Homo sapiens: one gene and its partners. The protein of the gene in region 2 interacts with the protein of the main gene of each other region in a pairwise test. Each region holds a gene or a part of one and is shown on either strand. Other genes may lie near its edges.

Region 1 (3,568 bases), on a different chromosome or scaffold from region 2:
CAGGCATGCACCACCACACCCGGCTAATTTTTGTATTTTTTGTAGAGATGGGGTTTCCCCATGTTGCCCAGGCTGGTCTCAAATTCCTAGGCTCAAGTGATCTGCCCACCTGGGCCTCCCAAAGTGCTGGGACTCTAGGTGTGAGCCACCACGCCTGGTCTCTTTCTCTCTCTCTCTCTCTCTCTTTTCCAGACAAGATCTCATTGTGTCACCCAGGCTGGAGTGCAGCAGTGCAATCATGGCTCACTGCAGCCTCAACCTCCTAGGCGCAAGCAATCCTCCCTCTTCAGCCTTCGGAGTAACTGGGACTACAGGCACGCACCAGCACACCCAACTAATTTTCATATTTTTTTTATTTCATAGAGATGGGGTCCTCCTTATGTTGCCCAGGCTGGTCTGGATCTCCTGGGCTCAAGCAATCATCCTGCCTCGGCCTCCCAAAGTGCTGGCAAGCCACCTTACCTAGCAGTGATCTCATTTTGTTTGAGAGTTAGGTGTTCCTTTCTCAGCATCTTCATAAACCCCTGGCCCCTGCCAAGCAGTGAAAGCATCTCCTTCCTCTTTCGCAGCTGCCTCTCCTCTCACCCTTTCCTCCTTTCCTGTGGGCACCATATCCATACAGTGGATGGGGGTGAAGACTGCCTCTTAGCCACAGCCACATACATGTACCCCAGATCCTTGTTTCTGTCAGATGGCCAATGGGGTATAGTGGAGTCAAATCAACTTGGGTGCAGATCTCGGCCCAAGTCATGTTAGTACATGACTTGTTAGGTGTCCTTAGATAAGTTAGGTGTCCTTAGGTAAGTTACTTTCTCTGACTTCAGTGTCCTCATCTGGAAAGTGATGATAACAATAGTAATCAGGTAGGGATGCTATGAGGATTAGTAGTCCTTGTAAGTATGTGACCCAGTGCCTAATATACACTCTCCCTTCTTTCATGGCCTGAAACCTCCACCATTAAGTCTAGATGGGCAACAACTTGAGCAAGCACTGTTGGAAAGGCAGCAAGCATCCCAGCTCTTCTGCTCAGAAGCTGAGTAAATGCCAGACAAGTCTTTTAACCTCCCTGAACTGAGCCTTGTTTTTCTCATCTCTGCAATGGGACCTTGATCCTCCTATGGTTGCTGGGATGATCCAGTGAAATAACACATGAGAAAGGACTTTTGGAAAATGTCAAGCACTCTGCAAATATTAGTTGTTGCTCTGGTCTCAGAAAGGCCATCAAGCCCTCTCCTGTTGGTATGGTTCCTTGGGTCCATTGGTCTCTCATCCTGGAAATCACAGAAAGCTTGGCTTCTCGAAGGTGAGACAGAGCTAAAGGCCATCCAGTGGGGAGGGGGTGGAGAGAGGAATACTGGCAACATGCCATGGGTGGCCGGGGGCAGGCCCGAACTGATGGGGTGCTGGAGGAGGATGGAGGGGCACAGCATGGGGAACTGCCAAAGAGATATCTAACCTTTTGAACTATTTTCTGGGCGAGCTTCAGCAAGCCCCCAACCCCCTGCATGTGCTCTTAGCTGACAGGGGGATTTCTTTTCCCTAGGAAACATTAACTGGCATCTTTCTATAGATGAGGCATGAATGTGCTTTTGTTGGAGGCCGATGGGGGAGGGTAGAAGTGCAAAAAAAGGAGACAAATACATCTGTAACCTCTGGAGCATGCCCCAGTGGATGATGGGAAAAGTTTAAAAGAAACCTGTTTTCAACTAGCTGGACTGTCCCATCTGCATCTAAGATCCACACACAAAGCTGACACAGAGAATGGCAAAGGAGGACAGAGACAAAGAGAAACTCACACACAGAAAGAAGCAGCAAGGGAGACAGAGAAACTTACACTGATGGATAATTAACCATTAAGTTAACTGGCAGAAGATAGAAGCTCAGAAGCCCTAAGGAAGAAATGATGTCATTCTGACTGCAGGCAGCTTCCAAGGAACACTTAGCTCAGCCTCCATCCACTTGATAATGTAACACAGGAAGGTATTTTTTTTCCCCCAGTGATCAGTAGAGGAACAGAAACTCACAGTCCTGAGCTGTACCTGCCCATAGCCACAGCTGACCTGCAGTTTGTCTTGTCCCCAGGGCTGGGGCACAGGGAGTGCCCAGCCTGTGGGAGGAACCAAACTATTATAGACAGAAGTGAAGCTTCCATGCAAATATACAAAGAATGATTCAAAAATTAGTTTCTTAGCCTCCCCTCTACTACATACCCTCCCTCTCTACACACACACACACACCCCTATTCGGCATTTTCCAATGCATTTAGGAGACAGACTCAATAAATTTAGCTACATCTGTAGGTGACAGACACATCATAGTCATTAAGGGAAGCTCCACTCTTCCTTTGGGGGCTGGGGGATGCCTCCACCCTTCCTAGGCTGATGTCAGGAAAGACTGTCAGCTATCTCTTATGATGTCCCTCTGGATTCTTGTCATAGGTGGCCTTGTGGGTTGGATGGACCATGGAGCTAGGCTGGAGAGAGGATTTTGTGCCAGGCAGCATGATGTGTGGAAAGAGCACCAGAAAGGGAATTAGGAGACATGAGTTCTAGGCCTGGCCCTGTGTGATCTTGGGCAAGTCACTTTCCCTCTCTGAGTCTCAGTTTCCTATCTGCAAGAGGAGGACACTGGATCACAGAATCTGTAACATCTCTTTTATCTCTGAACATTTTCTGCATCTCACACCTGAGTTGAGATAATCAAGGTGCAAAAAGTAAACCCAGGGCTCCCGCCTGTAATCCCAGCACTTTGGGAGGTCGAGGCAGGTGGATCACCTGAGGTCAGGAGTTCGAGACCAGCCTGGCTAACATGGTGAAACCCCATCTCTACTAAAAATATAAAAATTAGCTGGGCATCATGGCAGGTGCCTATAATCCCAGCTACTCAGGAGGCTGAGGCAGGAGAACTGCTTGAACCCAGGAGGCCGAGGTTGCAGTGAGCTGAGATCGTGCCATTGCACTCCAGCTTGGGCAACAAGAGTGAAACTCCCTCTCAAAAAAAAAAAAAAAAAAAAAGTAAACCCAGTTGAGTTCTGTGTGTCCTGGATACAAATTGAAGGAGACATCTGAAAGGCTCCTGGGGGCCTTGGGCTATAACCCTAAGTCCCTGGCCTAGAAGAAAGAGCAAGACTGGCTGCCTGGCATTCTATCTCCCCCTGTCAAACTCCCCCAATCTAGGGGACTGAATATTGTCCTGTAGAGTGAAATGCAGTGGTAAAGGGCATGGTCTCTGAATCTGGGTTGAAATCGTGGCCCTGTAACAGGAAAGGTAGGATAGTGAGGTGGCGAAGTGCTTGGGCTCAAGAGTCAAAGGCTGAAGCTCAGATCCATGTGCCACTGGGTTATTTCATCTCTCTTAGCCTCAGTCTCCTTATCTATAAAATGGGAATGATAACAATACTGCTGATTTCATAAAGCTGCTGTGAGGAGTAAATAAGATAATGCATGTAAAGTGCCTAGCCTGGGCTCTTTGCTTATTCAATACATAGTTGTTATTATTATTATTATTATTGCCTACTCATTGGAGGCTTTTCTTGATGTTCATACAATTGAGTTCATCAGGACTCAAT
Region 2 (3,568 bases):
ATCCCAGCACTTTGAGAGGCTAAGGCAGGAGGATCGCTTGAGCCCAGGAGTTCAATACCAGCCTAGGCAACATAGTGAGACCTCGTCTCTATCAAAATAAAAATAATTAGGTCGGACGCAGTAGCTCACACCTGTAATCCCAGCATTTTAGGAGGCCAAGGAGGGTGGATCTCCTGAGGTCAGGAGTTCAAGACCAGCCTGACCAACATGGTGAAACCCTGCCTCTACTAAAAATACAAAAATTAGCTGGGCATGGTGGCACATGCCTATAATCCCAGCTACTTGGGAGGCTGAAGCAGGAGAATCGCTTGAATCCAGGAGGCGGATGGTGCAGTGAGCAGAGATCGTGCCACTGCACTCCACCCTGGGTGACAGAGTGAGACTCCATCTCAAAAAAAAAAAAAAAAAAAAAAAAGAATTAGCAATATTAAATCTCAAGAATAAGGAAATCCACAGAGTCAGAAAGCAGATTAATAGTTGTCAGAGAATTGAGGGGAGGGAAGAACGGTGAATTACTGCTAACAGATATGGGGTTTCTCTTTGGGGTAATAAAAATGTTCTGGAATTAGATAGTGGAGATAGCTGTACAACCTTGTGCATACACTAAAACCCACCTTAAAATGGTGAATTTTATGGAGACAGAGGATGAAAAGCCAGTGAGAGTGAGTATGTGGTGTCACAGAAGACAAATTAAAAAAGCATTTCAAGGAGAGAATAATCAATTATGTCAAAAGCTGTTGTGAAAGCATGTTAAGAGGAGGATGAAGTGACCACTGAATTTAACAATGTGGAAAATATCTGGTGAACTTGACTAGAAAGTTTCTGTAGAGCAGTGAAATAAAAAGGCACCTGGCTTAAGAACCGTGGAGCCAGAAATTAAGACTTTTAAATTAAACTGATCACTGAATTCAAAAGGGTAACTGAGCCACTTTTACTACATGTTGCTTCAAATCTTAAAGCGTGGGCATTAAACTCTCTGTGCCTGAGTCCCCATCTGTAAGAAGGGGGTTATATCGCTACCTGTCTACCTCACAGATAAACATAATACAAGTCTTTCCTCTATAGAATATGGCCTCTAGAGGAATGATCTATATTTTATTTACCTTTCTGTCTTCCACAGCACCTGGCAAAGAGCCTTCATGTATGCTCAGTTGTTGAATTAAGGTAACATATGGGCACAACTTAAATCATAAAGCAGTACACAAATGTAAGATATCGTGAAAATCAAGTACTTCTATCTCATACGTAAAATAAAGACAATGCCCTCCACTGAAATATGTTCAAATAACAGGACACAATTTTCATAACAAAAGGTTTTCCAGAATGTCCTTCCATATATCTTGAAGGGCGAGCTACCAATGAGGAACAGGTCAAAAAGCTCACCGTTCCCTCTGGTTAAGTTATGATGATATGGTTACAGGAGATAATAAATCAGTTGATTGGAGAAAACAGGTAAGAATAGTTCTTTGAGACTGGGTGTGGTGGCTCACATCTGTAATCCCAGCACTGTGGGAGGCCGAGGCGGGGGCAGTTCACTTGAGGTCAGGAGTTCGGGACCAGCCTGACCAACATGGTGAAACCCCATCTCTACTAAAAATACAAAAATTAGCTGGGCATGGTGGCACAAGCCTGCAATCCCACCTACTCAGGGGGCTGAGGCAGGAGAATCGCTTGAACCCGGGGGGCGGAGGTTGCAGTGAGCAGAGATCCCACCACTGCACTCCAGCCTGAGCAACAGAGGGGGATTCTGTCTCAAAAAAATAGTTCTTTGAAATAAAAAAAAAAAAATCAAAAATCACAAGAGTGGGCCACTTGCTGATAAGCTCACTGTCTTCTCTGGTTAGGTTACAATGATATGGTTATAGGAGATAATAAATCAGTTGATTGGAGAAAACAGGTAAGAATAGTTATTTGAAATAAAAAAAAAAAATCACAAGAGCAGGCCACTTGCTGATAATCTTCTCCCATACGTAAAATGGAAATGCAAACCCCGTTACAGTATTTAAAGAGATTCTCTCTGAGGTTGCAATATCACAGAGTAACATGTCTTACAAAACTCACAGATGCCCAGAAGACTTCAATGATGCAATCACAAGCAATACTGATTACAGCTAAACTTATTTAACACACACACTTCTTTCAAAACATCAACACCATACCCTATGATCCAAAATAACTCTACAACTAGTAGCTGTCATAAATGAACAGAATAGAAGGTTAAGTCAGTTTTCTGGGCAACTTCTGAATAAGTCAATTATAAGAACAAAATATCGACCTGCTAATTTTTGTCTAAAAAGTTTTACTATGAGTGCTTACTTCAGCAGCACATATACCAAAATTAGAACAATACAAAGAGTATTAGCTAAATTAAGAGAAAAAGTTATACTACAAAATTGATGAATTTTTCACAAGTTTGTATACTTTAGGAGGCTAAATTCATCATCAACAATAAAGTTAACACAAACTATAAGCTAAGTGCACACAACAAATATGCACATTTATATTAGAAAACCTACTTACTTAATGAAGCCTTTGTAATTCTGTTCAGAATTACAAAAATGGTAAATTCTAGGATTATGGGTAAAGAGAAGTGTCTTTCTGCAAAATATACTCTTGACTCAAACAAAATTGGAAAGCTCAACTTTCCCTTTTCCCTTCAACCAGACGTCACCAATTCCTTCATGACCAAACTTCATTTTACAAGGCTTGAAACATGCACAGGACTAGACAGGTAACTCCTATATCAGGATAAATATATTATTTCCTCACAGGATAATTTGATAAAAGCAGTAATATTGGTTTTTATTTTCAGCCCATCTTTAAAACACCAAGAATAAAAACACTGAGGTTCTTACCAGCCACTTAATGAACAACCCCTTAGAAATGACAATTTAGGGTAAGGGTGCACCTACTAAATGTATGTAGATTGGTTGTTTAATTTGATCAGAGTGGTTCCATTACTTGTGAATTTGACAATAAACAAAAACAGCATTAAAAAAAAACTTCTTGGCCGGGCGTGGTGGCTCACGCCTGTAATCCCAGCACTTTGGGAAGCCAAGGCTGGCGGATCATGAGGTCAGGAGATCAAGACCATCCTGGCTAACATGGTGAAACCCTGTCTCTACTAAAAACACAAAAAATTAGCCAGGCGTGGTGGTGGGCACCTGTAGTCCCAGCTACTGGGAAGCTGAGGCAGGAGAATGGCATGAACCTGGGAGATGGAGGTTGCAGTGAGCTGAGATCGCACCACTGCACTCCCGCCTGGGCGACAGAGCGAGACTCCGTCTCAAAAAAAAAAAAAAAAAAGCAAAACACACTTCTTATTCTTGGAGAATAAAAACAATCCAAGTCAGCAGGCATTTGCAGGCCATATTGACATGACCATTCTTGCTGTCTCCTGTATGCTTGCCTCTGTGCTGAAAGGGGTTTCCTAATGTATCATAACAACATTTATTAGTCAGAATCTGCATAAGTATTTAAGCATATTGATTCATGCCAAGCCTTCTGGGAAACATCTTGACTCCTCCCTCTACCTCTTTAACAGACCACCTCAGTGGAAGCGGGTGGC
Region 3 (4,063 bases), on a different chromosome or scaffold from region 2:
GAAAGGCAGAAATGGGCAAAGGTCATAGTCCAAGGCATCCAGAACCTCTGTCTAGTAATGTCCACATCTAGCCTGTTGAATGCAACCCTAAGGATTAAGAAGTAATGATTGGGAGGCCAAGACAGGTGGATCACCTGAGGTCAGGATTTCAAGACCAGCCTGGCCAACATGGGGAAACCCTGTCTCAACTAAAAATACAAAAAAATTAGCTGGGCGTGGTGGTGGGCACCTGTAATCCCAGCTACTTCAGGAGGCTGAGGCAGGAGAATCGCTTGAACCCAGCAGGCGGAGGTTGCAGTGAGCCAAGATAGTACCATTGCACTCCAGCCTGAGCGACAAGAGCGAAACTCTGTCTCAAAAAAAAAAAAAAAAAAAAGTACAATGAATGCCCCAAAGTAATCCCATCTCCTCTCAGATATAAAGAAAATGACAATGGACAGTTATGTCTGGGTTTCAAGTTCATCTTTTATGATAAAAGACAGATCTGAGCCAATTCCAAACTTTCTCTAAACCCTTTAGGTGATCCAGCCTCTTTGACGTTCTCTTCATATGGGGTATGAGTTCAAAGACACTATGGCACTAGTCCCCTTACTTCTTCCTGAGGGTCAAAATAGAAGACAGATGACACTGCTTACAGCTGCACTTCCTTGGTCAAGTCACTTTTCTGAAAAATCTCGTCCCACATTATAAAACACCATTACTAGCATGTGCTTGTCTTTTCTTACAAAACTTTCATCAATACTGCAAGTTAAACTATGGCAAAACATTTACAATAAAGAATATCATATATAGTATAAGGGAGATGATGCTATTGCTGTGCTCATCTCACATCAATGAATTTGAAAACTGTGATGGTGTATGTTTAAGGAAAGATGCTGTCAGAGGATTTATGAGTCTCCCTTCAGCAGCTGCTGCTCTAGAGCATGGAGAGATGCATTCTTTTTCCTGGCTTTGGAGGATGTATGTAAGATGGGAAAAGGAAGTCTAGCGGATGTGACAAAAGTTTCAGGGATAGCCCCCAAACATATTTCAGAGATGCTAGGAGGTTAGGGCTATACCTTTATCCAGAGTCCATCCAAGGGATTCCTCCACCATAATGTGGAAAGTTGCCTCTCCTTTTCTCCTTTCTTCCTCATACTTTCATTATTTGAGTCACCTTACTGCTCTCTGGATACTGTATCCCTACAAAATCATTATTCTCTTAAGTGGTCACAACATGCTGCAGCCCTAGCCAACCTGGTGGTTTGCTATTCCTTTATGTGACTCAAACTTTTTAGCACTAACAGCGCTGGCCACCACAGTTACCCTAATTATCTAAAATTCTTTTGACATTGCTTGTCTCTCCTATAATCAATTCCTGATCCAGGGATAATTCTCCTTTATTTTCTACCCCCTTCAGAAGGAAGAAGGTTTTGAAGGGTCAGGAATAGGGCTTCTCTGGGTGCTTTGTTTTGTGGCACTAGGTTGATTGCTTCCTGGAGCCTTTGCCAATCCACAAAGCAATCAGCAGAACTGCCTGGGCAGCCTCAGTTTAATCACAGAATAGAGAAAATCTTGTCCTACCAAAGGTGATCTTCAGGTAACAATGTTCCCAGATATTGGCTCAAAGCACAAACTCACACATAAAGCACAAACTCAATGATCCACAGTAACTGTCAATACACCCACAACAAATAATTAACAACTACTTTATTCAAGTACCAACCTTCATCATCAGAAACATAAACTAAGGACTGGCACTCAAGCAAGTACTTCTCTTTTTTGGGGGGGAGGGGCGCGGAGTTTCACTCTTGTTGCCTACGCTGGAGTGCAGTGGCGTGGTCTCTGCTCGCTCCAACCTCTGCCTCCCGGGTACAAGTGATTCTCCTGCCTCAGCCTCCCGAGTAGCAGGGATTACAGGCGCGCGCCACCACTCCCACCTAATTTTTGTATTTTTAGTAGAGAACGGGTTTCACCGTATTGGCCAGGCTGGTCTCGACCTCAGGTGATCCGCCCGCCTTGGCCTCCCAAAGTGCTGGGATTACAGGCGTGAGCCACTGCGCCCGGCCAAGCAAGTACTTCATCTCTGTGTGCCTCAATTTCCTTATCTGTAACATGGGCATAATAATAGTACATTACTTCATAGGGTTGATGCAAGGATTAAATGAGTTAATGCAGGTAAAAACTCTTGGAGCAGTGCCTGCACTCAGTAAGCACCTGGGAAACACCCCAGTACCGAAGACCTCCCTCGCCCAGCTAGAGGGGAAGCAGGGAGCAACCCTGCTCTTTTTCATCTCCCAGGGATACACCCGGGGAAAACCACTGGCTGTCACTGCCGCAGAGGGACTAGGCTGGCCCGCCAGTGAGACGAGCGCTGGGGGCTTCATGACCCCACGCCACGCGGCGTCCCAACCGTGGAGGTGCCTCCTGACCCGACCTGCAGCCAAACCACACGCGACCCTTTCGCCCGTTTCCTTCGAAGAACCCGTGTTTCCGCTTTCCAGAACCTCTAAGAGCACCCACCTTGGTCCCGGGGCCCTGTAAGCCTCACTCACCGGCCGCCTCCGGCCGAGTACCCCCGACACACCCCGGGCGGGTCCCGCACTTGGAGCGGAACCTGAGTGCGCTGGGCTTGGGGAAGTCGGAAGGATTAAAGAGAAACCCATGCGTCGAACCGCTGCTCCAACGCCCATCAGGTTCCCTAAGATCACAGGCACTCTTCCACTCAGACTGCTGCTGATCATGCTCTGCTCGGTATGCGGGACCAGTCATTGTCTGGGCAGTCGCCTGGACCTAAGTCTCCTGACGCGGACGACCAGTTGCAAAACAGAGACCACACTGAGACTGAGCAACGTATCAGCAGCGGTCGCAGCTCTGCGCTTGCGCCTGAGAGCCAGCTACAGCAGGGCTGTGCTGGGATTCACTTTCGTGGAAGGTTTTGCAAAGCCCCTCCCCTGGTATGCGAGAGGCTGAGAGGTTGGCGCTAGAGGCAAGAGGAAGGGGGTCTGCGAGAGGTGCCGAAGACCACCTTAATACACTGCAAAGTATAGCCTAGACCGGTGGTTCACAGAGTTTTAAATAGCGTACACAAATAAATCACCAAGTGAGCTTGTTAAAATACAGCTTCACAAGATTTACACTCCGAGATTGACTCGTTGGCCCGGAACATTGCATTTTCAAGGGGCACCCCAGATGATTCTGATGCAAGTGGTCTCTCCAGCCTGTCTGGAGAAACTGGCTCCGTTGCACAATCTAGTTGCTTAAATACTGTTAAATGCAAGACATGTCTCAAATTTCACCAAAAGAAAAAAATGAATAAAATCAGGACACTACCCTAATCTAGTAGATTTTTTAAAATTCCAGATAATTTTAATATAAGGTAATGAAGTTGCACAATGTGCCCTGGGAGTTCAGAGCAGGGGAAACTTATGGAACGAGGGACACTGGAGTGGTTTGACTAATGGAAGATTTAATGGAAAACATAAAGGAGGGCAACCTTACAAATAGTTGAGGAACTAGAAGAGTGGAAAGCATGTGCAAAACTGCAGGTCTGATACATGACAGCTGTGCACAAGTACCATAGAAACATCAAGTAAGTATAAAGCATGAGCCATGAAGTACAAAGGAGCAGGATCCAAATTATAAAGCTGGAAAGAATTAGATAAAGTCTAATTTTATCATTTCCTATTTTTAAAAATTAAAAACACTTTCAAACTGTGGTAAACTATGCACAACATTAAAGTTACCATTTTAAAGTCATACAGTAAAGTTTTTAGCGTATTCACAACAGCACCGTCACTATCTAATTCTAGAACATTTTCGTCATCCCTAAAGATGCCCATTGAGCAGTCTCTATTCCCTGCTCCCCACAGTCCCTGGTAACCTTTATTTTACACTATGTTTCTATGAATTTGCCTGTTCTAGATATGCCATATAAGTAAAATAATACAATATTTGTCTATTTATGTCTGGATTATTTTTAATTAGCATAAAGTTTTCAAGGTTCATTCATACTGCAGCATGTATCCTTCATGCCTTTTAATGGCTAAATAATATTCCTTCGTGTATATGTGTGTGTTTATAC
Region 4 (3,568 bases), on a different chromosome or scaffold from region 2:
TTGTGCTTCAGTTTCCTCATCTGTACAGCAGGTATAACCACAGGGTAGTTATAAAGCCCTGCTTTTAGGGCAGGACTTGGCACACAGTAGGTACTCAATAAATGCTGGCTATGATGACGATGATGATGGTGATGGTGATGATGATGATGATGATGATGATGATAGGGAAATATCTTTTCTCCCCTTATGGAGACTGGGAGCTCCTTGCCATGAGGGTGCTTGTCTCCTGTTATCCTCCACGGTGCCTGGGTGAAACTGGGCTCAGCAAGGGAGGCTGGGATAGATAGCGGGGCACATTAACTAACCCTCCAGTCAGGGATCCTCTTGCAGCCTCTGCAAATCTCTGTACCCCCAATGAAATGACCTTCCCACCTACCCAGTCACATCTTCCCCAGTACAAGGTCCCCCTTGCAGGCAGGAGTGAGCTGAGGAGGGCTGAGTCTGGTGGGGTTCGTCACCCCACCAATGCCCTGATCACTTCTCCCAGTGAACCTCTAAAGAGTGAGGAAGTAGCTAAATGTCACTGCCAGGTATGGGCCACCTGCATACACATATCATACATACATGTATACACACAGCAGACACCCTGGGTAGCTTCCCTCCCCGCAAGAGTCTGTCCCCACCCAGCTCTTTTCCTGACTACTGAATTGGAAGGGGTCGCATTTCTCTTCAGACACTTACTTTCCCTTCCCCACACACTGGCCAGCACTGGCCTCACGCCCAGACCCAGGTGGTACCTCAGGCCATCATGAAACTTATCACTACTGACTGCTCCCCTCACCCCAGGAAAGGCAGGCGGACCACTCACTAGGAGGCCTAAAGACATTCTGGGTGGGGAGGGCTGTGTCTCAGAGGAAAGGAAGCAGCGCCTTGACCTCAGCCTCCTCGATACAGGGGACGGTGGGGGAGGGAGCTCACCACTGCTGACCCAGGGCAGGTACCAGGTCAGGGAGGGGGCTCACCACTGCTGACCCACGGCAGGTACCAGGTTAGGGAGGGGGCTCACCACTGCTGACCCACGGCAGGTACCAGGTTAGGGAGGGGGCTCACCACTGCTGGCCCAGGGCAGGTACCAGGTCAGGGAGGGGGCTCACCACTGCTGGCCCAGGGCAGGTATCAGGTCGGGGAGGGGGCTCACCACTGCTGGCCCAGGGCAGATACCAGGTCGGGGAGGGGGTTCACCACTGCTGGCCCAGGGCAGGTACCAGGTCGGGGAGGGGGCTCACCACTGCTGGCCCAGGGCAGGTACCAGGGGCAGCTGACATTCACGAACGAGCCTGGCTCCCCATCTGGCCAGCAGGCGTATTCATCGAAGGTCCGGTTGCAGAACAAGTCTGGGAGCAGAAAGAACAGTCTCTGAGTCCCTGCTTGTGACTGGCCATGGCCCTTTCCCTCCCTTCCCCAAGACCCCTCCCCTCCTCGGAGGCTGCATGCCACTAACCTCTGCTGAATGCTTACTGTATGCCAAGCACTTTCCCCACCCAGCAAGAGCCAAGCAGGGGCACTTGCCACTTATCAGTGGCAGGACCTTGAGCAAGTAACTTAATGTCTGTTTCCTGATCTGTAAAACAGGAGTATTTCCAGCCCCATAGGGTTTTGTGGGATCAAGACTATATGCTACATAGATAATGGAACATAGTACGTGCTCAATGAAAAATCCCTATGGGCCTATTCTTAAATTGCACTTCACAGATTAGAGGGAAATGTTAGCTTACCTTCCTTCTGATCTCACTTAAGATAACCTTCTTTAGGTCACGTGTTATAATTACAGTCAGGATTTCAACCTAGGCCCAGCGGGCTCCAATCCCGTGCTCTTTAAACCACCTTGTGAACTCCCTGAAACATTTATTCCTATAAATATGTTTGTGGAGCCCTCAGTCCATGCACAGGCTGGGAGGTGCTGAGGACAAAAATGGAAAGGCCGGGTGCCTGCTCTGAGAGGCTCTAGCTGGGGGGCTGGCCGGCGGTGCAGGGAAGGACACACAGATAAGACAGCTAAGACAGAAATAAGACAGCAACCCCAAAGCAGACTACAGCAAACGAGTAAGGGCCAAATGATGGCAGAAGTCCTGGGGAAGATTTTCTGGAGGAGGCAGTGCTTCCGCGGACTTTGAAGAAAAGGAAGATTTTGGTCGGCAGAAAGGAAGGTATCCAGGTGAAGGAGTAGCTTGGACAATGAGATGAAGGCAGAGGGCAGGGGTGGCATCCTATAGAGGCAAATGGCTCCCAGCCATGGACATTGAGTTCATCAAAGTCCTCCAGAAGTTGGTTGGGTGGGGAGCACTAAAGGTGGGGAGCCTACATGGACTCACCTGTGGCAGGAGGTGGATCCTCAGTCAGGGAGCGCTGGCACTGGCGTCGGTATTCTCGCCATTTCTGCACCGTCTCCCAGAGGGACACAGTGGCACCCTGGGGGGAGGGCATATATGGGAGGCCTGTGGGTTCAGCCAGCCCCTCTCCTGCCCCCTCACCCCCTAACACACTTGGTTTCTCAATCTCCATGAAACCTCAAAGCCCCAAATTCTGCCAGGCATCAGCCACCTCTGAAAGAGAGTGAGAATAAGTCACTGCCACCCAGGGGCCCCAGGTGGATGGTTTGACATCTTCATTCCTCCCAGGGTGCATAGCTTGATGTGTCACGAGCACCCAGCAAATGTCTGCTAAATTGATGCTTTTGGGGAGGTGGGTGGGTGAAGGAGGAAAGGAGCGTGTGTGTCTCATTTGTGATCTCTGATCTCACTTAGGAGAGAGACTTTCTGAGGGCCCAGGACTCTAAGCTCCTTCTGGCGCCTAGTCAGCCTGCCTGAGGGCTTCTTGCACTTTCAACCATTCTAGAAGAAGACACACAGGCCAGAGTGGGAGAGGAACTGAATCAAGGGTGCACAGCCCCCCCAGGAAGCAGAGTTAAGGCTAGAATCTGGAGTCCTTCAGATCAGTGACCATGGTAGAATATCGCAAGGTGTGCGGGGGCCGGGGAGAGTAGTGGCGTTCAGGGCTACAAAGAGCTGGGATGTCTGCCATTAGCATTCCTCCTCCAAAACGCACTCACTTACAGATGCACTCAACACAGCACCCCCCACCCCCTCCCCGTGCTCCCCTCTGACACAGCAACCAAATCTAATATTCAACCCAGCTTCTATCCACCCAAAGGAAGAGTCCTGAGGACATGAGGTGAAGGGGTCAGGGAGGTTCCAGAACACTGAAGTCACACGTGCAATGGGAGGGATCCCTCTCACCTGTGAGTAGGGAGAGCTGAGCCTCCACTTCCAGTGAGGTCACCGAAATGGCTTTTCAGCACACAGACCCAAACAGACCCATCCCACTGAGAATCCACCATTCCTTCTGAGTGTTTTTGTGCACTTCCTTCAGCTATGTCTTGGGGTTGTCGTTCTTTTTAGTTTTTTCCTGAACAGCCTTAAAAATTATAAATATTCGTCCTTCAGAGGCTGCAGATGCTGAAATGACCCAAGAGCCCCATGTATAAAATGTAGGACCCATACATAATTTAAAACAACATTTTGCTTTTTGAAATCACAAAAATGTCCACGTGTGCTGAAATTAAAATAGC

What was found.
Region 1: the proteins of RTN3 (region 2) and RAB33A interact in a two-hybrid assay, tested with the Homo sapiens proteins (one large-scale study listed by BioGRID and IntAct).
Region 3: the proteins of RTN3 (region 2) and ZNF391 interact in a two-hybrid assay, tested with the Homo sapiens proteins (one large-scale study listed by BioGRID).
Region 4: the proteins of RTN3 (region 2) and GLP1R interact in a protein complementation assay, tested with the Homo sapiens proteins (one study listed by BioGRID).

The regions. Positions count from the first base shown.
Region 1 is NC_000023.11:130,174,939-130,178,506, reverse strand, and holds part of RAB33A (ras-related protein Rab-33A), read right to left. Parts: intron 1-3,568.
Region 2 is NC_000011.10:63,687,962-63,691,529, reverse strand, and holds part of RTN3 (reticulon-3), read right to left. Parts: intron 1-3,568. UniProt on the Homo sapiens protein: May be involved in membrane trafficking in the early secretory pathway. Inhibits BACE1 activity and amyloid precursor protein processing. May induce caspase-8 cascade and apoptosis.
Region 3 is NC_000006.12:27,387,515-27,391,577, reverse strand, and holds the start of ZNF391 (zinc finger protein 391), read right to left. Parts: upstream 2,820-4,063; 5' UTR 2,503-2,819; intron 1-2,502.
Region 4 is NC_000006.12:39,055,238-39,058,805, reverse strand, and holds part of GLP1R (glucagon-like peptide 1 receptor precursor), read right to left. Parts: intron 2,410-3,568; coding exon 2,313-2,409; intron 1,335-2,312; coding exon 1,227-1,334; intron 1-1,226.